7 linked regions of the Homo sapiens genome follow. The protein of the gene in region 3 purifies or fractionates together with the protein of the main gene of each other region. This does not show direct contact. Each region holds a gene or a part of one and is shown on either strand. Other genes may lie near its edges.

Region 1 (4,252 bases), on a different chromosome or scaffold from region 3:
CCAAGGGGCCTGGGTCTCTAGGTAAGCTTACCTGCTGTCTGTGTCCAGTCCTACAAAGTCCTTTTTCTCAAACGGGACACAGAGAAGGGGGATCTTATCCCCAGACTTGTCTGTGGCTCTGTCCAGACGCTTGGACTCCAGCACGATGAACAGTGACTCGATGAAGTCCTCGATTCTCTTCTCCACCGTCTGGCAGTCCTCGTAGTTGGGGTAGAAAGCCACGTCGGTGCGCGGCTGCTCCACGATCTCCCCCTGCAGCCCGAAGACAAAGAGCCGGGAGTCATACAGTGTGGAGCCGTAGATCTCCTTCTGCACGTGGAACTTCTCAAAGGTCTGTGGCCAGTCCTTGGCCGAGAAGCAGTCTGTGATGGTGATGAGGCCCACGACTTTGCGGTGGGTCTGGAAGTCACCCCACTCGTTGTTCTCGGGTGGGTAGTGGTGCCTGTAGCGGATGTAGAGGACTCGCTGGGAGTCCCGCACGCTGATCTGACTCACAGAGCAAATCCTCTTATAGATCCTGAAGAAGTTCTCCTCGGAGACGATGCCCACAGGCTGGACCACCACGAGCAGCGTCTGGTGGTCCTCAGCACACTGCATGTAGTCAGGGACGCTCATTTTGAAGTCCCTGTTCAGAGAGAAGAAATGAGGCTGTGAGACACAGAGTCCTGAGTGCTGAGAGCCTACCCTGGGAGGCAGTGACTGTGACCTTCACTACCCAGAGGCAGGGGAAGCCCCAAGGAAAGCCGTGGCATCAACAGGTCTTAGGGCTCTACACGTGGCTGTCGCAGCTCTGATCATAATGCTGTAACTGTTGACCTTCAGTCCCTTGGCCTCAGCATGGAGCTTCTACAGAAATGGGGCTGTTTCTTGTCTTTCTATTCTCACCACCTAACCAGGAGTAGTAAGAGTCAGTGCTCAAAAATGTCTGTTGAGTGAATGAATAAACACGTGTGTAATTGCTCCCCCATCCCCTCAACAGGATATTAAGAAAAATCCACCATGCAATCACATCTGGATTTGAATTCCGGGCTCCCTGGAACTCCTCAGCTACAAAATAGTGGTGATAATAGAACTTGTCTTGGCCGGGCATGGTGGCTCATGCCTGTAATCCTAACACTTTGGAAGGCCGAAGCTGGCGGATCACTTGAGGTCAGGAATTCGAGACCAGCCTGGCCAACATGGTGAAACCCCACCTATACTAAAAATACAAAAATTAGCCGGGTGTGGTGGCACGTGCCTGTAATCCCAGTTACCCAGGAGGCTGAGGCAGGAAAATCACTGGAACCCGGGAGGTGAAAGCTGCAGTGAGCCAAGATTGCGCCACTGCACTCCAGCCTGGGTGACAGAGTGAGACTCCGTCTCAAAAAAAAAAAAAAAAGAGGCGGGGCGCAGTGGCTCACACCTGTAATCCCAGCACTTTGGGAAGCTGAGGCAGGCAGATCACAAGGTCAGAAGATCGAGATCATCCTGGCTAACATGGTGAAACCCCATCTTTACTAAAAATACAAAAAATTAGCCCGGCGTGGTGGCAGGCACCTGTAGTCCCAGCTACTTGGGAGGCTGAGGCAGGAGAATGGCATGAACCAGGGAGGCAGAGCTTGCAGTGAGCCCAGATGGCGCCACTGCACTCCAGCCTGGGCGACAGAGCCAGACTGCATCTCAAAAAAAAAAAAAAAAAAAAAGAATTAAAAGAAAAAGAACTTGCCTTATAAAACTGTATCTAGATTGAGGAGGTTGCGAATGTAAAGGGCCTAGCATTGTGCCTAACATAAAAGGAGAGATTACACAAATATACCACCTTTCCTTTATAAATGGGAGAGTTGCCATAACCTCTCTGAGCCAATTTTGTCAGATATAAAAAGAAAACGTTATTACCTGATTCCCCAGAGCTGGGGAAAAATTAAATTAGATGACCCACGTGAAAGAATCTGGCTCATAGGAGATCCTCAATACATGTTTGTTGAAGGGATTAGTGAACAAACAAACAAATGAACAATCCAATGAATGCTGCCCCCAGCCTACAGACGGTCATGATGGAAATCCCACTGCCTGGAAGTCAGGGCCGATATTCAACTCCCAGCTCTACACGCACGATCTGGGTGACCTGGAGCAAGCCTGTGTGCTTCCCTGAACCCTAGTTTCATTGTGAATAAAAATGAGGATAGTAACACATACCTCAAGGTGTCAGCAAGTCAACATTCTGGTTGTGATAACATACTGTGGTTTTGTAACATGGCACCACGGGGGGAAACTGGGCAAAAGGTATATAGGATCCCTCAGTATTATTTCTGACAAATGCACATGGAGCTACAACTACTATAGTCTCAAATAAAAAGTCTAATTTTTTTAAAGGTTAGGGAGATTAAATGAGCTCTCTGTATCAAATAAGAAAAAGATGCCTCGATACACACCTCCACTGTCCCCATCAGTGGGCTGACACTTCCTGAGGGGATTTGGCCATGGTCCCCATGGCCAGAGGCAGCTGTACCATGAGCTAATGGGGTTCAGCTTCAGGCCCCTTCCATGGCCCTCTATCTAATTTTGCATTTTTAATTTTGTTTTCTTTTTCTTAAATAGGAAGCCCAAAACTGCATAACCTTCAGGTCACCAAAGCCTGACTGCAGAGATCGTGGCAGTAAAACCCTCCCAGGTGACACTAAGATTAAAGTGACATTGCTATAAGACCTCTGTGAAATTCTAATGGCAAGCTTCTCACCTGCACGGAGAGGAGGAGGACTGTGTGTCGGGGGCTATCCTGGACATCACAACCCCACCTCTACAGACTTCAAAAATACACATGGATAGAGAAGTATGAACAAAATTAAATTTTAAAAAAAGGAAACCCTAGCCTCCCAACATGTCTTGCTTCTGCCCAGGATCTAAACGGTTCACAAGTATATTACATGTGTGTGACTCAGCCCAAGTCCCTGACTCCAGTGCTCACGCTCTCAAGGACGACGCCCCACTCTCTCCTGCCCTTTCCCCACAACGATTCCCTAAAGAGTCTTTTCTGCACACAAAAACCACCTTCGAAAGAACCAAAATCACATCACCTTCCAACAAAGAGGCATAAAACCCCTCGGAGGACATATCAAAATACTGAGCGGGGGAGACTGGAGCGCTCATGTTTCTCAAAAGTAGGCACAGGTTTAACAGAAGCTGAGAAACACCGAAGCCTTCATTCTACAGAGGAGGAGAGCGCGGCCCACCGCAGGTAACAAAGGGCCTTATTTTAGAAGTATCATCTCGGCCAGACACGGTGGCTCACACCTGTAATCCCAACACTTTGGGAGACAGAGGCGGGAGGATCACTTGAGGTCAGCAGTTAGAGACCAGCCTGGTCAACATGACAAAACCCCATCTCTATTAAAAATACAAAAATTAGCCAGGAGTGGTAGCACACACCCGCAGTCCCAGCTACTCCAGAGGCTGAGGCAGGAGAATTGCTTGAACTCAGGAGGTGGAGGAGGCAGTGAGCCAAGATCACAACACTGCACTCCAGCCTGGGTAACAGAGCGAGACTCCATCTCAAAAAAATTAATAAATAAAAATGATTTAAAAATAAAAACTATCGTCTCATCTAAAAAGCAGCATAATCAGCCGGGTGTGGTGGCTCACACCTGTAATCCCAGCACTTTGGGAGGCGGAGGCAGGCAGATCACTTGAGGTCAGGAGTTGGAGACCAGCCTGACCAACATGGAGAAACCCGGTCTCTAATAAAAATACAAAAAATTAGCCAGGCGTGGTGGCGCATGCCTGTGATCCCAGCTACTCAGGAGGCTGAGGCAGGAGAATCGCTTGAACCCAGGAGATGGGGGTTGCAGTGAGCCGAGATCACGCCACTGCACTCCAGCCTGGGCAATAAGAGTAAGACTCCCTCTCAAAAAAAAAAAAAAAAAAAACACAACCTGACCTCACACCTGTGATCTCAACACTTTGGGAGGCCAAGTCGAGTGGATCGCCTGAGGTCAGGAGTTCGAGACCAGCCTGGCCAACATGGCAAAACCCTTTCTCTACTAAAAATACAAAAATTAGCCAGGCTTGGTGGCATGCACCTATAATTCCAGCTACTTGGGAGGCTGAGGCACGGGAATCGCTTGAACCCAGGGAGGAGGAGGTTACAGTGAACTGAGATCACACCACTGCACTCCAGCCTGGGTGACAAAGTAAGACTCTTTAAAAAAAAAAAAAAAAAGACACCTGCCACTGAGCCAGTTCTGGTATCTGAGACTAAGCTAATACAGGTATTAAA
Region 2 (3,549 bases), on a different chromosome or scaffold from region 3:
AAACATGTACTTCGTTTGACAATGGCAGTGTTAACACATGGGATCTTTATTATGTAAGCACTGCGTCAGACCATCTTAGAATTCAACAGCACCTTCAAGATCTTGGTCCAGTATTTTTCAAACCGCACTTTACATCCTATTAGTGGGTCATGAAATCAATTCATCAGGTTTATAACCAGGGATGTTTTTTAACAAAACAGAGTAGGATACAAAATATGTAAGAGTACACAGAATGCATTCTTCTATGAAACTTGTTTATAGTTTCACGTATTTACATACACATGTATACTCATATATGTAGTAAATTATGTAAAATGTATCAACAAATTCTGATAACATGGAACTCTCCAGTAGAAAAGTGAATACCCTCTTCAGCCTTCCCATAAAAATATAGATGACACTGGCTGAGCACCCTCATACATAACTTTGGGTCTGGCACTGTTCCAAGCTCTTCTCATGTATGAATCTATATCATCCTTCATAACAAGCCTATAAGATGGGTGTTATTTACATCTTATATACAAGAACGCTGAGATACACAGAGGGTAAGGAACTTGAACAACGTCACCCAGACAAAAGCAGCAGAGGAGGGATTTGATCCTAGACAGCTGGACTCTAGAGTCATGCTCCATGGCCTCTACCTGAAAAGCCATGTTACAACAGGGAGCTCATGTCCTCCCAAGATAGCACTGTCCAACTCTCACATAATGTTACCAGAGCCAGTTCTAGAACACAGCCCAATTTTCAATCCTGTGCTTGCCATTGCATCTCATGCAACAGTGTTCTTAGTAAAAGCTGTTCCATGAAGCTGAAATCAAACAAGCTCAAAATAAAAGATAGAGACAGACAAGCATACTTGAAAGAGAACATGTTTATTTACATCACTATTTCCTTTTTACAATGCCTCCACCTTTTGAATAATAAAATTTTCCAGGAAATCAGGTCATTTTAAATTATTAAGGTATTTTAACAAATACAATTTTCACCCTATGATTTTTATTTACATGAGTTTTCAAGAGTTTTAAATAGTTCTTTTGAAACTGCACAATATAACCAGAAGGCCTGACTCAGACCCTGCATCTTTTCCAAAAACTTTCAGTCTAGGAAATTATGTTTATAATCAAATCCTTGCACTTTGGATCTTTTCCGATGAGGATTTTATTAACACCTCTAAAATATGAACCTGCTTCATAAATGATCCATATTTTGGCAGCAAGCTGAACCTATTTGACACTTCTTGATAGTAAGCAAAGATATTTTTGATACCTTAATTAAACTGCTTTGATTAAAACTTTCTGGAAGTTTTCCGTATCAGTCATACAACTCCCTATGTTGTTGTGTATGTGTTCTGAGTACACACTGAATTTATGAGAATGATTTATTTCCGGTCTGGCCAGCTCTGAAAGAGACACATGGGGGATTCGGAACTTTATGGCACAGGCACTGGTGCATCTGCTCTCTTTGTCCAGTCACACTTGGGATGCTTAATTTTCCTGATATTATACATGCAAATCACTTACTTTTCATAGAATTTACCATTCATCAAATGACTTTCAACAATAACAATGGTCTGACATTCTTTCATGTCGTACTGAGATTTCAGATATTTATTAGAGAAACTATAAGACAGATTTTCCTAATATTTTTGAAGTATGAGTTCCTCTGAATAGTTGGTATAACATCCATTAAAAAATAGAAAAGGTTAACTTTTTACCATGATCAAAGCTAGAGTTCACAATGAAACACCTGCATAGCTCTGCCCAACATCTCTGTAACAACAGCCAAGGGCCGGTCTTGAACATCATGCAGCAGCAATAGAGGTATCATCCATGAGTCGACCCTGTGGCTTTAAAGTGGGAAAAACAAAGTGGGTTTACAAAATTATAATATAATAACAAAAGCTCTATTAACTGGAAGGATTTTTAAATTCTTGAAACTGTTTTACAAAAACAGAATAAATGAGTGTAAGCATCAAAATAAAAATGGTGATATGGTGATTCTCCTCCTTTCACCCCACCTCTTTCTTTCTTCACTTGCACCTGGGGATGGCCACGGCACAGGCTGGGAGCTGCCCTCTCCTGTAGCCATCACCAGCTGACTCTGCACTTCCACCCGAAGAATCCTCTTCTGTCAGTACTTCTCTCTCAACCCTGCGTTCCAGCAGCTACTGCCAGGCCATCTCCCACATGTGGAATGGAACCTTGTTTATCATTCCTACTTAACTGATAGTTTTATTCTCTCTCTCTTGCTCAGGGCCCTCCTGTGTCTCAAGCTTTAAGCAGGTCCAGAGCCTGAGCTGACAGGTAAGTTCCTTTTGGGGACTCAAGGTTGCCCAATCTCCTGTTTGAGAAAAAGTGTCTGCAGTGAACTCCAATGCATGCTGCAAGGATAAAAGTGGCAGATAAAAACAAAAACTGCCCTATCTCTAAGATCACTGATTGAAAGAATTTAAAACATCACGTCAGAAAAGTCAAGACTAAGAATGAATAAAAGGTATCGTAACTGTTTTTAGTTGTAAAATTTCTGGCAGGTTAACAACATCCCAGAGGGATAGCTAGTAGCTAAAAGAATACAATTCTTACAAATAATTTTATTTTATTATACAGATATACAATAGCAGACCTTTGTGGGGAAAGCAGGAGAAAGATGATCAGGAAATGAAACAGAAGAGTGTTCACAATCAAAAGTGATTTGCTATGCTTTAAGCAGAAAGATTCTGAGGCATTCCCGAGGCAGTGAAGACAGCACTCCTGCTTTCAGTTTGCTGCTGCTGTGGTTGTTCAGATGTATATAGCAGTGTGTGTGTACATACATACAGAAACATAGCTAAGTATAGCTTCCAGACATTCACGGCAGGAATGGAGTGAGTGAAATAGGTTCCCGATCCTTGATTCTTGACTGTTTTTTTAGTACTGATGGGAGCTGCTCAATTTTAGAAACAAAATCATGGCTCAAGCTAGTGAAATCCCTGCCAAATGTAGCTTTTACAAGCAAGAGCAAAAAATGAGTGCATCATACAATTAGAAAACCAAAGCCTTTTATTCAAAGGAAGAAAAGTATGGATTCATCCTTGCCTAGGACGTCACTGTCTGGTATGGCAGTCGCTAGTCACATTTAGCGATTGAGCACTTGAAATGTGGCAGTGTAACTAAGCAAATTTAATTTAAACTGAATCTCAATAGTCACATGTGGCTAGTGGCTATACCGGACAGCATAGCTCTAAAGTTTAATACAGGTGCACTAGGACCTAAAATTTTAGTCAGTGATTGTCCAATAAGTGGGAAAGGGTAATCCTCAGCCACTGTCCTTAGAGTGACAAGTAAAAAAAAAAATTGTAGACATTTACGGTATACAACATGATGTTTTGAAATATGTACACTATATATACACTGTAGAATGGCAATTTTTTTTTTTTGAGACAGCATCTCATTCTGTTGCCCAGGCTGGAGTGCAATGGCATGGTCTCACCTCACTGCAACCTCTGTCTTCCAGATTCAAGCAATTCTCCTGCCTCGGCCTCCCAAGTAGCTGGGATTGCAGGCGCCCACC
Region 3 (4,252 bases):
CCTGTCGGTGCCTCACTGGATTGAGGATGTGAGGAAGTATGCGGGCTCCAACATTGTGCAGCTGCTGATCGGTGAGTTGGGGATTCCTCGGGACCACAAATCCCATCACTCTGCCTGTCCATGCCTCCCTCTGCTTTTTAAACACAGTGTAACCCTGAGTTCAGAGGGAGTCCCAGCCAGAGTTTGAGCCATGGTTTTGCAAATCCTGATCCTGCTAATCACTTAGAAAGTTACATTCAAGGCCGGGCACGGTGGCTCACGCCTGTAGTCCCAGCACTTTGGGAGGCTGAGGCGGGCGGATCACAAGGTCAGGAGATCGAGATCATCCTGGCTAACACAGTGAAACCTCGTCTCTACTAAAAAAATAAAAAAAAATTAGCCGGTTGTGGTGGCAGGCGCCTGTAGTCCCAGCTGCTGGGGAGGCTGAGGCAGGAGAATGGCATGAACCTGGGAGGCGGAGCTTGCAGTGAGCTGAGATCACGCCACTGCACTCCAACCTGGGTGACAGAGCAAGATTCGTCTCAAAAAAAAAAAAAAAAAAAAAAAAAAAAGAAAGTTATATTCAAAATTGGAATTAGAGGAAAGAAGAAAGAGAGCTGAAGTTTGCTCTGCTGTTCTTCACATGTGTCAAGATTTAGCTCTTGTACCCCGGCTTCTCCTCATTTGACAGGGGCTGGGGCTAGGCTCAGAAAAGTGCAGTGATTTATCCGGGTCCACATGGCCTGTGAGCATACACATGTAGGCTTTGAGTTTGCTTCTGCTGACCTCAAGTCTGTGGCTTTCTCTGTTGTGCCGCACACAGAGCAGGGACACTTGATGGCTTCCGTGCCTCAGAATCCCACAGAAGTCTTCTTCAAGTGCAGCTGCAGGGCCTCAACCTCCAGAGCATCTGATCCAGGCGGGCTGGGTGGGGCCCATGAATGTGCGTTTCTAACAAATTCCCAAGTGACACCCACCTTGCTGGTCCAAGGATCCCACTTTGAGAACTGCTGCTGTGGAAGGATGCTGTTTACCTTTGTTTTCCTTCTATATAACCTTCCCAGACCTGGACTGGAGAAGCTCTTTAGCTCTTATGTTATCCCTGGGGTCCTCACCCCAACAGGTTGATTCTTTTTTTTGAGACAGAGTCTTACTCAGTCACCCAGGCTGGAGTGCCGTGGCGTGATCTTGGTTCTGCAAGATCTGCAAAACCACTGCAACCTCTGTCTCCCTGGTTCAAGCGATTCTCCTGCTTCAGCCTCCCGAGTAGCTGGGCCAACAGGTTGATTCTTCTGACTCAAATGTACAGACAGGGCCTGGACCTGACTCCAGCCAGGAAGAGGGTGGTGCCTGGTTCCATGTGGCCTGCCTTCCACAGCCTGTTCAGACTAGGACATGGAGTGCTTGGCATGAACAGAGCTTTCCTCACGTAGCCTAACCATTTCCCCACCTTTTCTTGCTGGGGGTGGGGGACGGAGTCTCGCTCTGTCGCCAGGCTGGAGTGCAGTGGCACGATCTTGGCTTACTGCAACCTCCGCCTCCCGGGTTCAAGCAATTCTCCTGCCTCAGCCTCCTGAGTAGCTGGGACTACAGGCACGCACCACCACACCTGGCTAACTTTTGTATTTTTAGTAGAGACTGGGTTTCACCATGTTGGCCAGGATGGTCTCGATCTCCTGACCTCGTGATCCACCCGTCTCGACCTCTAAAAGTGCTGGGATTACAGGTGTGAGCCACCACACCCAGCCACCAATTCCCATTTATCCAGGACATTTCTGAAAAACATTCCAGCCTGGCATGGTGGCTCACACCTGTAATCCTAACACTGAGAGGCTGAGGTGGGTGGATTGCCTGAGTTCAGGAGTTCAAGACCAGCCTGGGCAACATGGTGAAACCCCATCTCTACTAAAAATACAAAAATTAGCCAGGCATGGTGGCACACACCTGTAATCCCAGCTACTGCGGAGGCCAAGGTAGGAGAATCGCTTGAACCTGGGAGGCGGAGATTGTAGTGAGCCGAGATCGTGCCACTGTCCTCCAGCCTATGCGACAGAGTAAGACTCTGTCTTCCAAAAAATAATTAATTAAAAAACATTCTATTATAGAACTTTTTTTTTTTTTTGAGACAGAGTCTCACCCTGTCGCCCAGACTGGAGTGCAGTGGCGCGATCTCGGCTCATGGCAAGCTCTGCCTCCTGGGTTCACACCATTCTCCTGCCTCAGCCTCCCGAGTAGCTGGGACCACAGGCGCCCGCCACCATGCCTGGCTAATTTTTTGTATTTTTAGTAGAGACGGGGTTTCACCATGTTAGCCAGGATGGTCTCGATTTCCTGACCTCGTGATCCACCCGCCTCAGCCTCCCAAAGTGCTGGGATTACAGGCGTGAGCCACCGCGCCCGGCCTATAGAACATTTTATACAGCTATGAAAATAGTATTTTATCTATTTATTTATGCATACTTATATACATACATATATTTTTAGAGATGCAGTCCTGCTATGTTGCCCAGGCTGATCTTGAACTCCTGGCCTCAAGCAATCCTCCTGCCTCAACCTCCAAGTAGTTGGAATTACAGGTGTGAGCCACTATATCTGGCTTAGAATAGTATAATAATGAGCCCCCAGGTACCCATTACCCTGCTTCAGCAATTAGCAACTGAAGTCCAACCTCCTCTCATCTGTACCATGTCACCTCCCCTCCCTCGGATTATTGAGACAAATTCACATCAAACCATTTCACCTGGCAGTATTCCAGCATGAACCTACAAAATATTTAAACACTTAAAAACAGCAATATTATTTTCTCATCTAAAAATACTGACATTTCCTTAATAATATAAAATAGCCAGTCTGTATTCAGATTTATAATTGCCCATAAAATTCATATGTGTTTTATTTTTTCCAGTTTGTTGAGATCAGGATCCAAATAAGTTTCACACTTTGAAACTGGTTGCTACATCAATTAAGGTTACCAAGGAAATTTTAGATCTTTACAGACTTTTTTTTTTTTTTTTTTTTTATGACGGAGTTTCGCTCTTGTTGCCCAGGCTGGAGTACAGTGGCACAATCTCGGCTCACTGCAACCTCCGCTTGCCACTCCTGCCTCAGGCACCCGAGTAGCTGGGATTACAGGCCCCCGCCACCACGCCTAGCTAATTTTTTGTATTTTTTTTAAGTAGAGACGGGGTTTCATCATGTTGGCCAGGCTGGTCTTGAACTTCCAACCTCAGGTGATCCACCCACCTCGGCCTTCCCAAATGCTGGGATTACAAGCATGAGCCACTGCGCTTGGCCCAGACTCTTTTTTTTTTTGTCTTCCTTATAACCACATTACAAAAGTCAACCATGTAGAGACTTTTAAAAAATTATTCTAGAAATTGGGTCAAGGAGCAATTTAACAGATTGTTTGGAATGTAATGAAGTCATCTCATACCATCTAGGAGGATCTGGGTAAATTGAGACGGGGTCTCACTGTGTTGCCCAGGCTGGTCTTGAATTCCTGGGCTCAAGCAGTCTTCCTGCCTTAGCTTCCCAAAGTGTTGGGATTACAGGCGTGAGCCACTGCACCCGGCCTAAAAAAGGTTTTTTAAAGAAAGACAGATGACCATGCCAGGGGTGTCCATTTATAGTGGTGGAAGGGAGTGGCATGGGGCTGTCAGCGTGACCCTCCCAGGTGGGACTGGGCTTGCCCAGCCCCCATGGCCTCATGCTGCCCCGGCTTTCCTCCGCAGGGAACAAGTCAGACCTCAGCGAGCTTCGGGAGGTCTCCTTGGCTGAGGCACAGAGCCTGGCTGAGCACTATGACATCCTGTGTGCCATTGAGACGTCTGCCAAGGACTCGAGCAACGTGGAGGAGGCCTTCCTGAGGGTGGCCACGGAGCTCATCATGCGGCACGGGGGCCCCTTGTTCAGCGAGAAGAGCCCCGACCACATCCAGCTGAACAGCAAGGACATCGGAGAAGGCTGGGGCTGCGGGTGCTGACCAGGGGCCGGGCCGGCAGACTGGGGGTTCCCCACCTCCTTGCTCTCCCCAGCCTGCCAAGCCCAGCCCTCCAGAGCCAGCCCTCCTGGGTACCGGCAACTACAGCAGCCGGGTGAAGCTCTGGAGCTCTGCATCCTGTGGCCTGGCTGCGGGATGGAGGCTCTCCTTGAGGAAGGGGAAGCAGGATACCCTGGCGGGCCACCCTGCCAGCCAGCAGCTGGCCCTCCACCATCTTCACATTCCAAGACTGGCCTGAACCCGCCGGTGTGGGCCACAGTAGGAGGGGCCAGC
Region 4 (4,252 bases), on a different chromosome or scaffold from region 3:
TGTGTTTTCAGGCTTGGGTGGCAAATTTTGAAAGACCTCGAATGAATGCGAATTCTCTGCTTGCAAGCCCTACTGGACTTAGTCCTTATCTCCGATTTGGTTGTTTGTCATGTCGACTGTTTTACTTCAAACTAACAGATCTCTACAAAAAGGTATTCTCTAAAATTAGAGCTTATTGTTTAATACTTTAAAAAAAAATTCTGATAATACTTCTTTGCTTTTTAACCATAGGTAAAGAAGAACAGTTCCCCTCCCCTTTCCCTTTATGGGCAACTGTTATGGCGTGAATTTTTCTATACAGCAGCAACAAATAATCCACGCTTTGATAAAATGGAAGGAAACCCTATCTGTGTTCAGATTCCTTGGGATAAAAATCCTGAGGCTTTAGCCAAATGGGCGGAAGGCCGGACAGGCTTTCCATGGATTGATGCCATCATGACACAGCTTCGTCAGGAGGGTTGGATTCATCATCTAGCCAGGCATGCAGTTGCTTGCTTCCTGACACGAGGGGACCTGTGGATTAGTTGGGAAGAAGGAATGAAGGTAAGTGTTCTAACTGATATAGCATGCCTTATTTTGAAGGAATCCTTACCTTAATAAAACAAATCCTAGAAGTTGTCTGTTTATAGATTCATTTATGGTGTAGTTTTTCAGTGGATAAAACATTTAATTCCCCAAATACGGGGACACTTTCAGAGAAAAATGGTATAATCAGACAAGCAAAAAGGTGAAAACTGGTTAAATTGATTAACCTAAAGTCATTTTAATGGTTAAACCAGCCTAGCCACTAAGAGAACTGTAAAATTTAACACTGAATTTGTTGATAGATATATTTATAGGTGATATTTCTATCACGAAAAGAATTCACTAAAGAGTTCCTAGAGATAGTGAATTCATATTATAAATTTTAAAATATAAATCATTTCACCTCACTTCTCAGCTTTTTAGTAATACTTCTATTATGTAAAGAGAAGCATACTACATTTTGTGACGACATCTTGTGGATTACACGTAATAAGACTTAGGTACTTTTTTTTTTTTTTTTTTTTTGAGACGGAGTCTCTCACTCTGTAGCCCAGGCCGGGGTGCAATGACGTGATCTCAGCTCACTGCAACCTACGCCTTCCAGGTTCAAGTGATTCTCCTGCCTCAACCTCCCGAGTAGCTGGGATTACAGGTGCCCACCACTGTGCCCAGCTAATTTTGCATTTTTAGTAGAGAGAGGGTTTTACCATATTGCCCAGGCTGGTCTTGAACTCCTGACCTCAAATGATCCCCCTGCCTCAGCCTCCCAAAGTGCTGGGATTACACGCATGAGCCACCGTGCCCGGCCATTACGTACATTTTTTACCTTTCTGGCAATACCATACATTTGCCCCATCCAAGGACCATTTCTGAGCTTGTGTGTGTGTGTGTGTGTGTGTGTGTGTGTGTTTAATCTCTTATATTTCCTAGTACACCGTTGTATACAAAGACAATATATAACATACTTAATGAATATATATAAAAATCATTTATTTTAATTCTATTTTCTTTCTGATCAAGGAATTCGAAATTAAACTATGTAATGCTAGTATATATTTTTAAGTGAATTTATATTTGAGTATGCTTCCTTTATTTAGGCTAGAATATGAAGCTAAGTTTTTGTTGGTGTTTTATGTAATAGCATTTTTGCTTTCTTGAAAGTGGTTGACTGCTTTTCCTGTGTCTACTAATAATATCCTTTTAAATCCACATCCTTTTAAATCAGTGATTTGAATATTTTTTTTACCTTCCATTCTCCCAGTAACACTGCAGAGGTTGGAAAAGTAAATTCTCTTCAGAAGCATACTATATTACCACTATGTTTCTTTCTCTGGAAGAGCTCATTATAGAACAGAACATAGGGAAGCTAACTTTGGAATGTTTAATTTTACAATTCTGTGCTAGATTTTCTTTGCCTTGACTTTGGCTCTACTGTGACCTTGAAAATGCTTGCTTTGCGAATTATGTGTGTGCAAACTAATTGGTTACTGTTACTTCTGAAGGTATTTGAAGAATTATTGCTTGATGCAGATTGGAGCATAAATGCTGGAAGTTGGATGTGGCTGTCTTGTAGTTCCTTTTTTCAACAGTTTTTTCACTGCTATTGCCCTGTTGGTTTTGGTAGGAGAACAGATCCCAATGGAGACTATATCAGGTAAATCAAGGGTGATTACTACTCAGTTTGGAATAGTTAATTCAAGAAGAGCTTTTCATGTTTAATCAATGCTTAAAGTATTCCCCACTCATGATGGGCAGCAGAGATGAGAAGGGTAAACAGATCATTTAAATGGTCTTGATTTGATTTTGGTCTGTCATAGCTAGTAGTTATAGTTTGCTTAGAGTGCATTTTATTAGTAATCTTTCTTTTTTCTCCCAAAGGCGTTATTTGCCTGTCCTAAGAGGCTTCCCTGCAAAATATATCTATGATCCCTGGAATGCACCAGAAGGTATCCAAAAGGTAGCCAAATGTTTGATAGGAGTTAATTATCCTAAACCAATGGTGAACCATGCTGAGGCAAGCCGTTTGAATATCGAAAGGATGAAACAGATCTATCAGCAGCTTTCACGATATAGAGGACTAGGTATGTTAAGAACTGTCTTTGTTTCTTTGGCAGCTGTTTATGTACTTATCTTTGAATTTTATCTTGATCATAATTTAAAAGAAAATTTTTTTGTCCTTTAGGTCTTCTGGCATCAGTACCTTCTAATCCTAATGGGAATGGAGGCTTCATGGGATATTCTGCAGAAAATATCCCAGGTTGTAGCAGCAGTGGAAGTAAGTGAAAAGGAAATTTCTGCACTTAGTAACATGAAGAGGTTATTAAACAAATATATTTGTTATTGATCCTCACTAACATATTTTATAAAAATCTGTCTTTGAAATTAGCTTAATAGATTCTTTGTATGCATGCATACATGTGCACCCAGACACATCTCTTCACTCCATTGATGACATTTTAGAGATGGAAAATATCATTACGTATAATAGATACTGGGTCAAGTTAAAGCTCTTGCAAACTGAGGAGAGCAATTTTAAGGATAAAATGAAACTCAAATGTCATATTTTCAGAATGCTTATTATTTTTTACTCCTTAGGTGTATGGCAACTATAAGGTAATTAGTTAAGAAAGTCAGTGGCCCTGTGAACATGGCCAAAAGATTTATTGTACACATGCATAGAGCCCTCTAGTCTTTTTGCACATAAGTTTTTCTTATAAAGTCTGGTCTGTAGTAGTTTTCTGTATGATACAAATTTAGTGACCATGTAAATTCTTATGTGTGATATTAATAATTTCAGGAACTCAGTATGTGTTAGAAATTTGAACCATCATATTAGTTTTTGGCTTTGACCAAAAATAGCATGAAGCTCAGTAATTTGATTAAAAAATAGGACAGCATCAGTGAGAATGGTGATTATTAAAAAGTCAAGAAACAACAGATGCTGGTGAGGATGCAGAGAAAAAGGAAGGCTTTTACATTGTTGATGGGATTGTAAATTAGTTCAACCATTGTGGAAGAGAGTGTGGTGATTCCTCAAAGATCTAGAAGCAGGAATACCATTTGACTGAGCAATCCCATTACTGGGTATATACCCAAAGGAATATAAATCATTCTGTTATAAAGATACATGCACACGTATGTTCATTGCAGCACTATTCACATTAGCAAAGACGTGGAATCAACCTAAATGCCAGTCGATGATAGACTAGATAAAGAAAATGTGGTACATATGTACCATGAAATACTATGCAGCCATAAAAAGGAACGAGATCATGTTCTTTGCAGGGACATGATGGAGCTTGTAGCCATTATCCTCAGCAAACTAAGGCAGGAACAGAAAACCAAACACCTCATGTTCTTGCTTGTAAGTGGAAGTAGAATGATGAGAACACATGGATACATGCGGAGAACAACACATACTGGGGCCAGGTGCAGTAGCTCACACTTGTAATCCCAGCACTTTGGGAGGCCGAGGTGGGTGGATCACCTGAGGTTGGGAGTTTGAGACCAGCCCCTGACCAACATGGAGAAACCCCCGTCTCTACTAAAAAGACAAAATTGGCCGGGCGTGGTAGCGCATGCCTGTAATCCCAGCTACTTGGGAGGCTGAGGCAGGAGAATCACTTGAACCCAGGAGGCAGAGGTTGTGGTGAGCTGAGATCGCGCCATTGCACTCCAGCCTGGATAACAAGAGCAAAACTCCATCTCAAAAACAAAAAACAACAAA
Region 5 (3,762 bases), on a different chromosome or scaffold from region 3:
GTTCATTCTTCTCACAAATAATTCTGTTGGTACATAATTTTCTCTCATGCTAATTCAACAAACCCTGAGCTTTGTTTCTCCATCTATGGCTAAATACATATCACTCTAACCAAATAAAAAGGTTTAAAATAAGGGCCCTGCATCTTGGTGTCTGGTTATTTGAAATCCGGTTTTCATTTTGAATAGTTTTGGTTAAGTGTATGTCATGGCAGAATGTCCCTTCATCTCCTTTGATCTGTGTTAAATTGATAAAAATACATGCTTACTCCTGTACAAACATCGAACAATGTAATTAAATCATCACTACTTGAAATACTTTTACATGAATAATTTATCTCTTTACACTGTTGAAGCCTTGCATTTCAGTATGTTCTACAGCTTCTGTATCATCACCTGAAATTTGCCTAAAAAAAAAAATACAAATAATTCTTTGATTTTAGATACAAAGAAAACAAGTCTAAACATCAATTTTCTGTTCCATATAGGAAATAGTTTCAGTCAAGAAATCTGCTATGTCAAAAACTTTTTCGCATTCTTCATAATATTCAATAAAGTCAATTCTATTTTTTCTTTTTTTTTGAGATGGAGTCTTGCTCTGTTGCCCAGGCTGGAGTGCAGTGGCACGATCTCTGCTCACTGCAACCTCCACCTCCTGGGTTCAAGTGATTCTCCTGCCTCAGCCTCCTGAGTAGCTGGGACTACAGGCGTCTGTCACCACGCCCAGCTAATTTTTGTATTTTTAGTAGAGACAGGGTTTCACCTTATTGGCCAGGCTGGTCTCAAACTCCTGACCTCATGATACGCCCACCTCGGCCTCCCAAAGTGCTGAGCTTACAGGTGTGAGGCACCACACCCGGCCAGTCAATTCTATTTTTATGGGATGATTATATGGTTTGTTGAGTAAGCACTTTTGTTTCTCTTTATGAATCCTACATTTGGGTACAGTATTTCATGGCTAATGATCATTGTAAATTGAAAAGAAATACAATAAAGCTCAAGTCCATTTTTTCTTGGTTGGTAGCTCTGGTGAAAAGATCTTTAGGGAGACATTTAGTGATAAAAGAATATTTGGTTTTACTTAGCTTGATATAATAGACATATCCTAAACAATTGTTTAAAAATAGCATTTTCGGGCCGGGCGCGGTGGTTCATGCCTGTAATCCCAGCACTTTGGGAGGCCGAGGCAGACGGATCACAAGGTCAGGAGATGGAGACCATCCTGGCTAACACGGTGAAACCCATCTCTACTAAAAATACAAAAAATTAGCTGGGCGTGGTGGCAGGCAACTGTAGTCCCAGCTACTCGGGAGGTTGAGGCAGGAGAATGGCGTGAACCCGGGAGGTGGAGCTTGCAGTGAGCCGAGATTGTGCCACTGCACTCCAGCCTGGGCAACAGAGCGAGACTCCGTCTCAAAAAAAAAAAAAAAAAAAAAAAATAGCATTTTCAATGTTCTAGGGAAATTTGCTATCTTAAAACACTGCAGGAGATATTCAGAAGAATATCTTTAAAAAAGTTACAGTTTGAATAACTTTAGAAAAGTTAAAAATCATCCCTTAAATTGTCTTATAAATTTGGATTTTAGTCCATTATTCAAAAATTACTGAAAATGAATGTAGTATGCTACATATTACTACACTAAAGTGTTACATTGATAAAACTAAAATGAAAGTTTCAGCATTTTAAATTTCCTCTCAGTTAAATTAAAAAAAAAAACAGACCTGAAAACAAATTACTAAAACATTTGTAAGAAAGGCGAATTCAACTTACAAGCAGGCATTGAAGACACTTCAGCTGTTACAATACTTTTTATTCCCAAGTTTGATAAGCCACCTCTGATTAAGCCACACGTAAATGCTAAATACTAAAAGGAAAAAAAATCATTAAAAATAGTAAGGATTTACTAAAATAGTAAAGCTATTGATAAATACAACATTACATGATTTATCATCAGTAAGTCATTCCTGTTTAAAAAAAGGATTTTGAAGAACTGTTCAAATTACTGAAAAATATTGATATATTTCCCAGCTCCCTGGAAACTAAAGCATGGACGTAGGACTTAAGACTTAAGCTCAGCCAATTAAGTACTCCAGTCCAGGACTGTGAATCTAGACTCAGTGACAAAAACAAGCCAGAAACTGATCAGAATTAGTTCTGGAGGCAGTAAAGGTAGTTTGTGTCTACAGTCCCTGCTGCCTGCAGGATTCTAAGTAGATACAGTCTGCAGAGTGACTTGGCTATCTTACTGGCTGCCTTAACCTCCCCTGGTTATTGCCTATTCTTTGAGCTTATCAATTTTGTTAGCTTACAAGCAGAATTTCTTTCCCCTATTTACAACCAAGAATCTTGACTTGTTCAAGACTTATAGCTTGCCACAACAAAGAATTATCTGGTTGAAAGTATCAACAGTTTGGACGTTGAGAAACCCTGTCATATAGAAACAAAGAAAGGGAATAGGGCTGAGCTACAAAACCAAAAGTCATGACAAGAACTGGATTGAAAAATTAGCAATTCAGGGAATTTTTGATTACCCACATCTATACTGCATGATGTTCAACATACTACATTATCTACGAATAATATAAAATATTATCTTATAAATAATATACATAAATGGGCACTAATAAGTAACTAGATCTGAGTCATGAAATTTTAAGCTGGAAGAGGCCTTAGAGATTGTTCATCCCAAGAGTTCTTAATCGGGGAATTTGTGACCCCTATGAAAATAAAAACCATGTATATGTGCGTATTTATGGGGAAAGGTGTTCCAGTTCTCAAAGATGTCCATAACTCAAAATAGTTAGAAATCACTGAATTGGTCCAACTTACTCTTTTCACAGCTGAAGAAACCAAGATCCCAAAAAGTTAAGTGAGAACCAGAAATATTAAACTAAGAAGTTAGTAAAAAAGAGAAAATATGCCAGGCATGGCCTATAATCCCAGCACTTTGGGAGGCTGTAATCCCAGCATTTTGGGTGGCTTTTGTAATCACGTCTGTAATCCCAGCACTTTGGGAGGCTGTAATCCCAGCATTTTGGGTGGCTTTTGTAATCACGTCTGTAATCCGAGCACTTTGGGAGGCTGAGGTGGGTGGATCACGAGGTCAGGAGTTTGAGACTAGCCTCGCCAACATGGTGAAACCCTGTCTCTACTAAAGATACAAAAAATTAGCCAGGCATGGTGGCGCACACCTGTAATCCCAGCTACTCAGGAGGCTGAGGCAGGAGAATCACTTGAACCCAGGAGGCAGAGGTTGCAGTGAGTCTCACACTCTGTCCGAAAAAAAAAAAAAAGAGAGAAAATATACACATTAACCATAAAAATGTAATTAGAGCCTGGATACCCCAAAAATATAGAAAATAGGCAATCAGGCCGGATGCAGTGGCTCACACCTGTAATCCCAACACACTGGGAGGCCGAGGTGAGGTGATCACTTGAGCCCAGGAGTTCAAGACGAGCCTGGGCAACATCGTGGGATCCCATCTCTAAAAAATTTTTTTAAAAATTAGCCAGGCATGGTGGCCCACACCTGCAGTCCTACCTCCTTGGGTGACTGAAGTGGGAGGATCACTTGAGCCCGGGGGGGTCAAGGTCAAGATAGGCCATGATTGTACCACTACACTCCAGCCTAGATGACAGAGCAAGACCTTGTCTTAAAAAAAAAAAAAAAGTGATCTACCATACATCTACATTTCACTGTCATTTAGTTATAGTGTTTCTTTTTTTTCTTTTTTTTTTTTTTTGAGATGGAGTTTTGCTCTTAT
Region 6 (4,252 bases), on a different chromosome or scaffold from region 3:
AGGAAGTTAGACCCAAGCTGCGCCGACACTCACCTGGGGACGGGCAAAGCCACACGGAGCCAGGCTGAACGTGCAGAATGCCACCCGAGGCTGCCCCTTTACAGAGCACTCTGTGCACAGAGGCTTGGCTTTCAGAGCAGGTGCCTAAGATTCTAACAGCGGATGAGGCTTCTAGTACCAGTTTCTACCGGCACTGAAAACACGCCGCTAGTTCTCCAACCTGCTCAGTCATAAGTTTATCACCTCTCGCACAAAGTGCTCACCTGCTCAAATACTGAAGGTAAACTTTTTCTTCCAAAGTCCTTACCAGCGTCCAGTTGGGAGGAGTGTGCAGAATGATGGGGGAGGTACTTGAACAGCCTGACGTCGGGCAGGGGGAGATACCCGGCGAAGAGCGGCATCACTTCCATGTGGACCCTGTGAGTGGCCCGAGCAGCCACTGGCATGGAGATGACACCGCAGCTTTTCCCACACACTGCCCAGTTGCTACTGTTGTCGACAACTGAAACGAGAGGAAGCGATGTGTCATCCAGGACGGGCCTTCCAGTACTCAGGCGAGAGTCACGGCCGTCGTTACCCAATCCTCTCACCCAACGCTGTCTGACAAAACACTGCGGACACAGAGCCCAGTGCCTTGTAGCTGCGCCTGAAGATAAAGCCATGCACTTTCACGGTGGCAACCCCTATTTCATTGAGTCCAATTTCAATTAGTTCTGGATTAGAATGAATTATGCTGGACGTGTACAGAAAACTGCATTTTTCCTGTGAGGTTAATAAATGATTTAATTTTGTTTTCAAATTTTTGTGTCATCTTCCACAGTATGGTGACTTTGGCAGTTAATGGGTTCTGTCTGGTAAGTGGCAGTATCCAAGACCACTGGGTCTGAAGCCAACTCTGCCACTCAGAAGAGCACCCCAAGGCCTCCAGGCTCAATGACCGCTGTATAGTGCTGAGACCACCACCAGCCTCACAGAGCTGCTTTTTAAGGATGGAAAGAGAATACGTATGAGGGAACTACAAAAAGTTCATGCAAAAATGGAATCCAAAGATGAAAACAGAAAATATAAGCTTTATTTCTCAACATAAGCCCCACCAAGGTCAAGACATGTTTGTAAGCAATGATGCCATTGCTTACGATGCCATTTAGTCCATCCCTGAAGAACTGGGAGGCCTGAGAATTTAGCCATGTCAACGCAGTCTTTCTCTACATTATTAGCTGAATAAAAATGGGTGCCTTTTAAAGACTTCTTAAGATCAGGAAACCAAAATCAGTCAGAAGGAGCCGAATCAGGTCCACAAGGTGGATGCCTCATGATTTCCCATAGAAACCCTCACGAAGTTGGGCTTGTTAGAGGAATGAGCAGGAGCTTTGTCGTGGTGGAGGAGGACTCTCTGGTGAAGCTTCCCCAGGGGTTTTTCTACCAAAGCTCTTGCTATCTTCCTCAAAACAATCTCATAATACACAGACGCTGCTGTCCTTTGACTCTCCAGAAAGTCAACAAGCAAAATGCCTTGAGTATCCCAAAAACCTGTTGCTGTGGCCTCTGCTCTTGACCAGTCTGCTTCTGCTTTGGTGGGGCCACCCCACCTCTTGGTAGCCATTGCCGTGTCTGCTTTGTCTTCAGGATGGTACTGGGAAGGCCACACTGCATCTCCTGTTATGGTTCTTTGAGTAAATGCTTCAGGATCTTGATCCCGTGTGTTTGAAGTTTCCATGGGAAGCTCTGCTCTGGTCGGCCACGGACCTGGGTACTAGGGTTTTGGCACCCACTGAGTGGAACGCTTGCTCACCCTTCAGGCGTAATTGCATAAGCTGAACCAGTTCAGATGTCTGCGGTGTTGGCTGTCATTTCTGCTGTTGTCAGTTCCCTCCAATTAGGGCATGAACAAGGTGAATTTTTTCCTTGAAAATGGATGTGGATGGTCTGCTTGCTATGGCCTTAATCTTCAGCATCATCTCGTCCCTTCTTAAAACAAGATATCCATTTGCAAACTACTAATTCTTTGGGGCACTGTCCAAAGAATTTCATAAACTTTTCATAAAGCATCAATGATTTCACCATTCTTCCACCCAAGCTTCACCATAAATTTGATGTTGGTTGTTTTGTTGTTGTTGTTGTTGTTGAGGCGGAGTTTTGCTCGTTGCCCAGGCTGGAGTGCAGTGGCGCAATTTTGGCTCACTGCAACCTCCGCCTCCTGGGTTCAGGCAATTCTCCTGCCTCAGCCTCCCAAGTAGCTGGGCTTATAGGCGCCTGCCACCACGCCCAGCTAATTTTTGTATTCTTAGTAGAGATGGGGTTTCGCCATATTAGCCAGGCTGATCTTGAACTCCTGACCTCAGGTGATCCGCCTGCCTCAGCCCCCCAAAGTGCTGGGATTACAGGCGTGAGCCACTGCACCCGGCCAATGTTGGTTCTTGATTTAATTTTAGCAGAATTCATGTTGCTCTGATAGGGGCTCTTTTAAAACTGATGTCTTATCCTTCTTAGTGCCTCAAACTAGATCCTGCTCAGTGAGTAGGAGCTTATTTTGGTGCAAAAAGTGTTGAAATCCATGCATAGTTTTTTCATAACGTATCTTCCATGATTTTTTTGAAGACCCCTTGTATGTAAAGCACTTAGTACCACTCCTGGGACATGGTAGTGTCTTAATATATGGCAGGTGTTATTATTAACATTAATTATTAAAACACAACCATCATGTAATTCAATGCAATTCAAACACTTAAGTGATCATTCACTGGGACTAGCCCTGGAGATATGAAAGTAAGCAAGACAGGATCCTTGCCATCCAGTAGCAGTAGACCTGGTAAAGAGGTCACAGCTTCCCATCATGAGGATACCGAGCAACCGCCCAGGGGGAGTGAGTGACCAGAAGGCCACGAGCAGCAGAGAAGGGCTCAGGGAGGTGGACATCCTGTAGTTGGGGATGGGGGACCTTTGAGGACAGGAGCTACTACAGGACATGCAGAGGCCCTAGGAGTGTCAGGAGGAAGGCAAAGGAGTGACAGTTCTCAGAGTGTGGCTCTCAGGGCACCCGCAAGCTCATAGCTTTCACACTGCTGCCTTTCTACGCTGCTGACCTCGCGCTGCTGGGGCAACCACAATGGCATGAACTCGGGCCAGACTGCGCAGTCATGTCACTCATGTTCTTTACTACCATGAACTCACAGCAAAAAAACAAAAAAAAAAATGCCACGCTTCACAAAGCAGTCAAAAGTGCTCATTTTATTAAATTCAGCTCCTGAGTAGACTTTTTTTTAATTGTGAAATGTTTATAGACTCACAAGAAGTTGTAAAAGTAGTAGAGGGGTCACATACCTTCATCACCAGCTTCACCCAACTGTGCCATCTCGTGTAACACAGGAAGCTGACACTGGTACCATACAGTGACCCAGGCTGCAGACCCCACTGGATTTCACTACAGAGTGAACCAGGCTGCAGACCCCACTGGATTTCAATACAGATAGAACCAGGCTGCAGACCCCACTGGATTTCACTACAGAGTGGACCAGGCTGCAGACCCCACTGGATTTCAATACAGCTAGAACCAGGCTGCAGACCCCACTGGATTTCACTACAGAGTGGACCAGGCTGCAGACCCCACTGGATTTCAATACAGATAGAACCAGGCTGCAGACCACACTGGATTTCACTACAGAGTGGACCAGGCTGCAGACCCCACTGGATTTCAATACAGATAGAACCAGGCTGCAGACCCCACTGGATTTCACTACAGAGTGAACCAGGCTGCAGACCCCACTGGATTTCAGCAGCTTTCGCAGGCATTCTTTGGGTCTAATTCTATGGCATTTGTCACATGTGTAGATTCGTGTAACAACCACAGCGGCCCTGGCCCAGAACTCTCCATTACCACAGAGGACGGCCTCCTGCTGCCTCCCACTGCTCCGTGGAACACTGACCCGCTCTCCTTCTGAGGCTGGCATTTTGAGGATGTCATTTAGAAATGGAATCACACAGTACACCTCCTTATAGGACTGGCGTTTTTCTCTTAGTATAATGCCCTTGAGATCCAACCACAGCACTGCGTGTGTCAACAGTCCCTTCTGTTTCACTGCTGAGGAGGAATCAGATGTGCCAGTTTAACCGCTCTCGAGCTGAAGGACGTTTGAGTTATTTCCATTCTTGAGTGCTTGTGTTCTTGACATTCTCTGGGTCTCTGCTGCAGAATGACAGCTGGCTCAGGGAAAGCACACGGGGAGCGCTCGGTGCTGCGAGCTGAAATAGCCGC
Region 7 (4,252 bases), on a different chromosome or scaffold from region 3:
ATTAACCGGGCGTGGTGGTGGGCGCCTGTAGTACCAGCTACTAGGGAGGCTGAGGCAGGAGAATGGTGTGAACCCGGGAGGCGGAGCTTGCAGTGAGCCAAGACTGTGCCACTGCACCCCAGCCTGGGCGACAGAGAGAGACTCCATCTCAAAAAAAAAAAAAAAAAAGGAACCAGGCCAATGCAGTGGCGGGAGGGGACAACCCTAGCCAGGAGCTGATCTGAAAAGGCCACTGAAGAGGCGGCACACAAACTAAGCCTGAGCCGTTAGCGGGAGGCAGCTACACCAACATCTGGGTACAGACATCCAGTGCAAGGCCCTGGGGCAGGGAAGGCCACAGTGATTTACAGGAGTGGGTCTCAAAGTGTGGTCTGGAAATCCTTGTTTTCATAAAAATAGTAAGACATTTTTCTTTTATGTTCATATTCCCAGGGGTGTACTGAGGAGTTTTCCAGAGGCCACAGAATGCATGCTATCACAACAGACAGAAAACAGAAGCAAAGAGGAGAATCCAGATGTCTTCTATTAAGCCAGGCATTAAAGAGACTTGCAGAAATGTGCAAGATCAATTTTTTTCTATGTTTTGGAAAACAGAGTTATTGTTCATAGAAAACTATGTTAGTTATGCATATATGCAATGGGTTTATTCAAGAAGTATATATTGAAAGCATTTCTTAGTTTTAATTTCTAATGTCATAAATATCTATAAATATAATCTATCTAAATGAAAGCTCTTTAAGTTCTGTAATACTTTTTAAGCAGATAAACACGTGGGTGCTGAGGCTAAAACTCTGAGAAATGCTAGCTTAGAGGAGCAGCAGGGGCTGGCAAGGCTGGGGTTGGGGCTAGAGTGAGCTTGGGGTTGGGGGAACTTCATCTGAGAGGCCAGTTGGGGCCGGATCTCACAGCCACCACCCAAGATCAGAAGGAGAGATGTGGATTTTGTTCTAAGTGCAACAGGAAACTACCAAAAAGCTGGAGGCAGGGGTATGACGTAATCTGATTTAAGTACTAGAATGATCCCACTGGCTGAATGGAAGCTAGGGATCCTGAGAAGGCTTCTGTTGCAATCTTGGGAGATCTGGGAGAGGAGATCTCGGATCTCAGTATTTTCTGGAGGCCAAGCAGGCTGGTGGGTGTGGAAGCAGGGTGAAAAGTTTTAAGAATGATTCCAAAGTGCTGAGTGGCTGCTGCTGTGGGGGACCCTGACTACTGAGATGGGGGTGGGGGCAGCCTATGCTCCCACCATGCCAAGGCTCAGGGATTTCAACTTGCTCTTCAGGACACAGCTCTGGTGCCAAGCCAAGGTGGGAGGGCAGCGAGGCCTCCCTCTTTGCGGGGGTGGTGTGATAAATAAGAATGTCTCCATCTCACTCCTCATAGCTGAGTGGCACTTCCAGGGGCAGTCAGGGGAGACACAGCCAAGGGGTGGATGCTGCCTTCAGCAGCCACCTCTGACTTGCTGTTGTCCCAGTTGGCACAGCCTCACACTTGCTGACCCTGGGACCAGCAACAGGACATGGGGCATCCCAGCTGTGCCAACCACCCCGGCAGGCAGGCCCAGGTTCTGGAGCCGGGCCACACTCCTGGCATTTGATGTTCTCACCCACCGGTGGAAGGCCAGGCAGGGTAGAAGAGGTAAGCAATAAGTCATCCTAAAGCATTCTGCAAACAGAGAAATGATCATGTAGATGCTGAAGAATGGGCCGCTTGGCTCCATGTATTTATTTACATTCTACCTTGTTCCAAAAGGGCTCAGAACAGAAATAAGGCCTGGGCTTTTCTCTTTAACCAGTAAGTTCCGAAACTGAAAGACGCCTCAATGACCCTAAAGAAGTCATTTCTTACCAGGTCAATTTGTACTTAGTTAACTTAGACTCAGTCACACTTTATATTTACTTAGCAATCATAGCCACAGAACACGAAGCAACCTGCAGAATTTTTTAAGCAAAGAATCCTCCTGACCCTGAAACAGGCAGAATCATCTCACATTTCATCACTGAAAACAGGCGGTGCCACAATCAGTCTCTCAGCCTAAGATTATTTTTTTCTTTTCTTTTTGAGACAGGGTCTCACTCTGTTGCCCAGGCTGGAGGGCAATGGTACAATCATAGCTCACTGCAGCGTCAACCTCCTGGGCTCAAGTGACCCTCCCACCTCAGCCTCCTGAGTGTAGCTGAGACCACAGGTGCCCACCACCATGCCTGGCTAATTTTTTATTTATACTAGACACGATGTCTCACTGTGTTGCCCAGGCTGGTCTCAAACTCCTGGGCTCAAGCAATCCGCCTTGTCTTAGCCTCCCAAAGTGCTAGGATTACTGGCATGAGCCGCCATGCCCAGCCCTGAGACTGGATTTAAGAAAGAAACCAATCACAAGCTGTGGGTGGCAGAGTGAATTGGTGTACTGTTTTCTAGAGTTCACGTTGGGACTACATATATCAAGATTAAAAACCTTCCCCTTTGGCAAATTCACTGCTAGGAATTTATCACACAGACATGAGAAATTTGCACAATTACACAAAGACACCCTAAGGATGCTCACTGTGACACTGTAAGAGCAAAACACTGGAAATGACCCAAATACGAAACAGCAAAAAAGATTTTTTTGCCCATCCATATGACAAAATACCATGTAACAGTTAAGGAGAATTAGGTTGATTTATACGTGTTAATGTGTGACACTTTCTATTAAGGAAGAAGTAGCAAGGTGCAGCATCAGACATACGGTATACCCCATGTGTAAAAAACAAACATATGCATGACATACAAAGAAATATTTCTGGAAAGACAGGCAAGAAACTGTTAACAATAGTTACTTCTGAAGCAAAGTAGACTTATTTTTCATTTGATCATCTCCTGTCTGGATTTTAAAAAATCATATGCCTACGGTATATACATATAAATAATGAATTATCAAACAATGAAACTAAAATAAATCACATGGGGGAACCAGGACTCGGGTTTTGAGCAGGTTCCTATGGCTGCGTTTTGTTCTTAAATCAATAACTGCTTTTGAAAACATTTCACAACACTTGCAACTTAAGTTTGAAGCCCTATATGGGGAGGGGTTAAGTTGTGAGGGAGAGCTTGGCCAGCGCTCTAAACTTTTGCAACCAAAAGAAAGGCTCTCTTTCGAGGGATCGGGGTGCATACGGATTTACTTAAAGCAGACATGTCAGAACAGGAAGGGGAGAACTCGGTCTTCTGGAGAAGTGGTCCTTTCCACTCTGACAAATCAGCAATGGACTTTCCATTCAAGTTTCTGTTTTGGGAGGAGCGGAGGAGCAGGGTTAGAGATGAGCTGTGGCAAAAGTGGGAGGAGACGCCCTCATATGGAAGGAGTGGACAGCTGACCTGTGGGCAGCACGGCCTTCTTTTGAAGTCTCACTTCTTCAGGGGGTTGTAACCGGAACCAAACACACTCTCTCTTTCTAGTCATCTTACATGGAGAAGGAAATTACTCTCCCACAACTTCAGCACTAATCATTTAAATGTTTCCAAGAAATTTCCAAGAAAATTCTTAGTCAATTCTGAGAAGTTCTTCCACATACCCAACAAATCTCTGGAAAACCAAACCAAACACTAAAGGGAAAGCCAAAATTTATTTTGGGGGCTGTGTTTAATCTTGCGCTGTGCTTTGACAAATTCTAAGAAGCTGGTGCTGCCAGCCGACGGGGCTTCTGAGAGAGGAAGGGCAGCTCACACAGGCTCCACAGAGAGAAAGACCTTGAACGCCCACCATGATGAACGAGCTGTGGCGCAGGGCGGGGGGCTGGCTCACCTGGCACCTTGTCCACCGATGCAAACACGGAGCGCTGCACTGTGGGGTCGCTGCTGCCCCGGCGCCCCTGGTCGTAGAAGCGGAAAGGCAGGTGCTGAGTGGAGGTGGAGGAGCCGAGTCCAAACCCCAGGACTTCAGTGGTGGGCTGGATTGGGAGGTCCAGGAGGGCTACGGTCAAACAATAGCATGGTTCACTCTGAGCATGTGGGATAGAGGGGGGTGGTGAGAATTTGGGGGGGGGGACATCGTAGTGGCTGTGGCCCTGCCAGGCACATCACTTGGGAGACGCCAAGTGGGCGGCAGGCAGCCTCAAGCTGCAGAGACCAGTGGAACATCAAAGTTCCCACTGAGGCTCAACGCACAAGCGGAAGCCAAGTGAGGGCTTCGGGCCAAGGTTGAGACCAAGGAGAAAGGGGTTTGAGCCTGGGCTCCTCGAGTGGAATGGAAGCTGGGTCAATTTCCACTTTG

The links.
Region 1: the proteins of RAB43 (region 3) and TRAPPC9 purify together in Homo sapiens (affinity purification with mass spectrometry; one large-scale study listed by BioGRID and IntAct). This does not show direct contact.
Region 2: the proteins of RAB43 (region 3) and TRAPPC11 purify together in Homo sapiens (affinity purification with mass spectrometry; one large-scale study listed by BioGRID and IntAct). This does not show direct contact.
Region 4: the proteins of RAB43 (region 3) and CRY1 purify together in Homo sapiens (affinity purification with mass spectrometry; one large-scale study listed by BioGRID and IntAct). This does not show direct contact.
Region 5: the proteins of RAB43 (region 3) and TRAPPC6B purify together in Homo sapiens (affinity purification with mass spectrometry; one large-scale study listed by BioGRID and IntAct). This does not show direct contact.
Region 6: the proteins of RAB43 (region 3) and TRAPPC10 purify together in Homo sapiens (affinity purification with mass spectrometry; one large-scale study listed by BioGRID and IntAct). This does not show direct contact.
Region 7: the proteins of RAB43 (region 3) and CLEC16A purify together in Homo sapiens (affinity purification with mass spectrometry; one large-scale study listed by BioGRID and IntAct). This does not show direct contact.

What each region holds. Positions count from the first base shown.
Region 1 is NC_000008.11:140,450,759-140,455,010, forward strand, and holds part of TRAPPC9 (trafficking protein particle complex subunit 9), read right to left. Parts: intron 626-4,252; coding exon of another isoform or gene 616-625; coding exon 32-615; intron 1-31. UniProt on the Homo sapiens protein: Functions as an activator of NF-kappa-B through increased phosphorylation of the IKK complex. May function in neuronal cells differentiation. May play a role in vesicular transport from endoplasmic reticulum to Golgi.
Region 2 is NC_000004.12:183,710,897-183,714,445, reverse strand, and holds the end of TRAPPC11 (trafficking protein particle complex subunit 11), read right to left. Parts: intron 1,847-3,549; coding exon 1,802-1,846; 3' UTR 857-1,801; downstream 1-856. UniProt on the Homo sapiens protein: Involved in endoplasmic reticulum to Golgi apparatus trafficking at a very early stage.
Region 3 is NC_000003.12:129,090,805-129,095,056, reverse strand, and holds part of RAB43 (ras-related protein Rab-43), read left to right. Parts: coding exon 1-71; intron 72-2,463; coding exon of another isoform or gene 2,464-2,543; exon of another isoform or gene 2,544-2,557; intron 2,558-3,710; coding exon 3,711-3,961; 3' UTR 3,962-4,252. Other genes in the region: ISY1-RAB43 protein, read left to right, coding at 1-32. UniProt on the Homo sapiens protein: The small GTPases Rab are key regulators of intracellular membrane trafficking, from the formation of transport vesicles to their fusion with membranes.
Region 4 is NC_000012.12:106,995,842-107,000,093, reverse strand, and holds part of CRY1 (cryptochrome-1), read left to right. Parts: intron 1-11; coding exon 12-152; intron 153-231; coding exon 232-543; intron 544-2,027; coding exon 2,028-2,179; intron 2,180-2,403; coding exon 2,404-2,606; intron 2,607-2,707; coding exon 2,708-2,800; intron 2,801-4,252.
Region 5 is NC_000014.9:39,149,978-39,153,739, forward strand, and holds part of TRAPPC6B (trafficking protein particle complex subunit 6B), read right to left. Parts: intron 1,863-3,762; coding exon 1,769-1,862; intron 405-1,768; coding exon 373-404; 3' UTR 1-372. UniProt on the Homo sapiens protein: Component of a transport protein particle (TRAPP) complex that may function in specific stages of inter-organelle traffic.
Region 6 is NC_000021.9:44,099,028-44,103,279, reverse strand, and holds part of TRAPPC10 (trafficking protein particle complex subunit 10), read right to left. Parts: exon of another isoform or gene 4,201-4,252; intron 4,184-4,200; coding exon of another isoform or gene 4,104-4,183; exon of another isoform or gene 3,214-4,103; intron 503-3,213; coding exon 308-502; intron 1-307. UniProt on the Homo sapiens protein: Specific subunit of the TRAPP (transport protein particle) II complex, a highly conserved vesicle tethering complex that functions in late Golgi trafficking as a membrane tether.
Region 7 is NC_000016.10:11,125,679-11,129,930, reverse strand, and holds part of CLEC16A (protein CLEC16A), read right to left. Parts: intron 3,953-4,252; coding exon 3,785-3,952; coding exon of another isoform or gene 3,651-3,784; exon of another isoform or gene 3,587-3,650; intron 561-3,586; exon of another isoform or gene 433-560; intron 1-432. UniProt on the Homo sapiens protein: Regulator of mitophagy through the upstream regulation of the RNF41/NRDP1-PRKN pathway. Mitophagy is a selective form of autophagy necessary for mitochondrial quality control.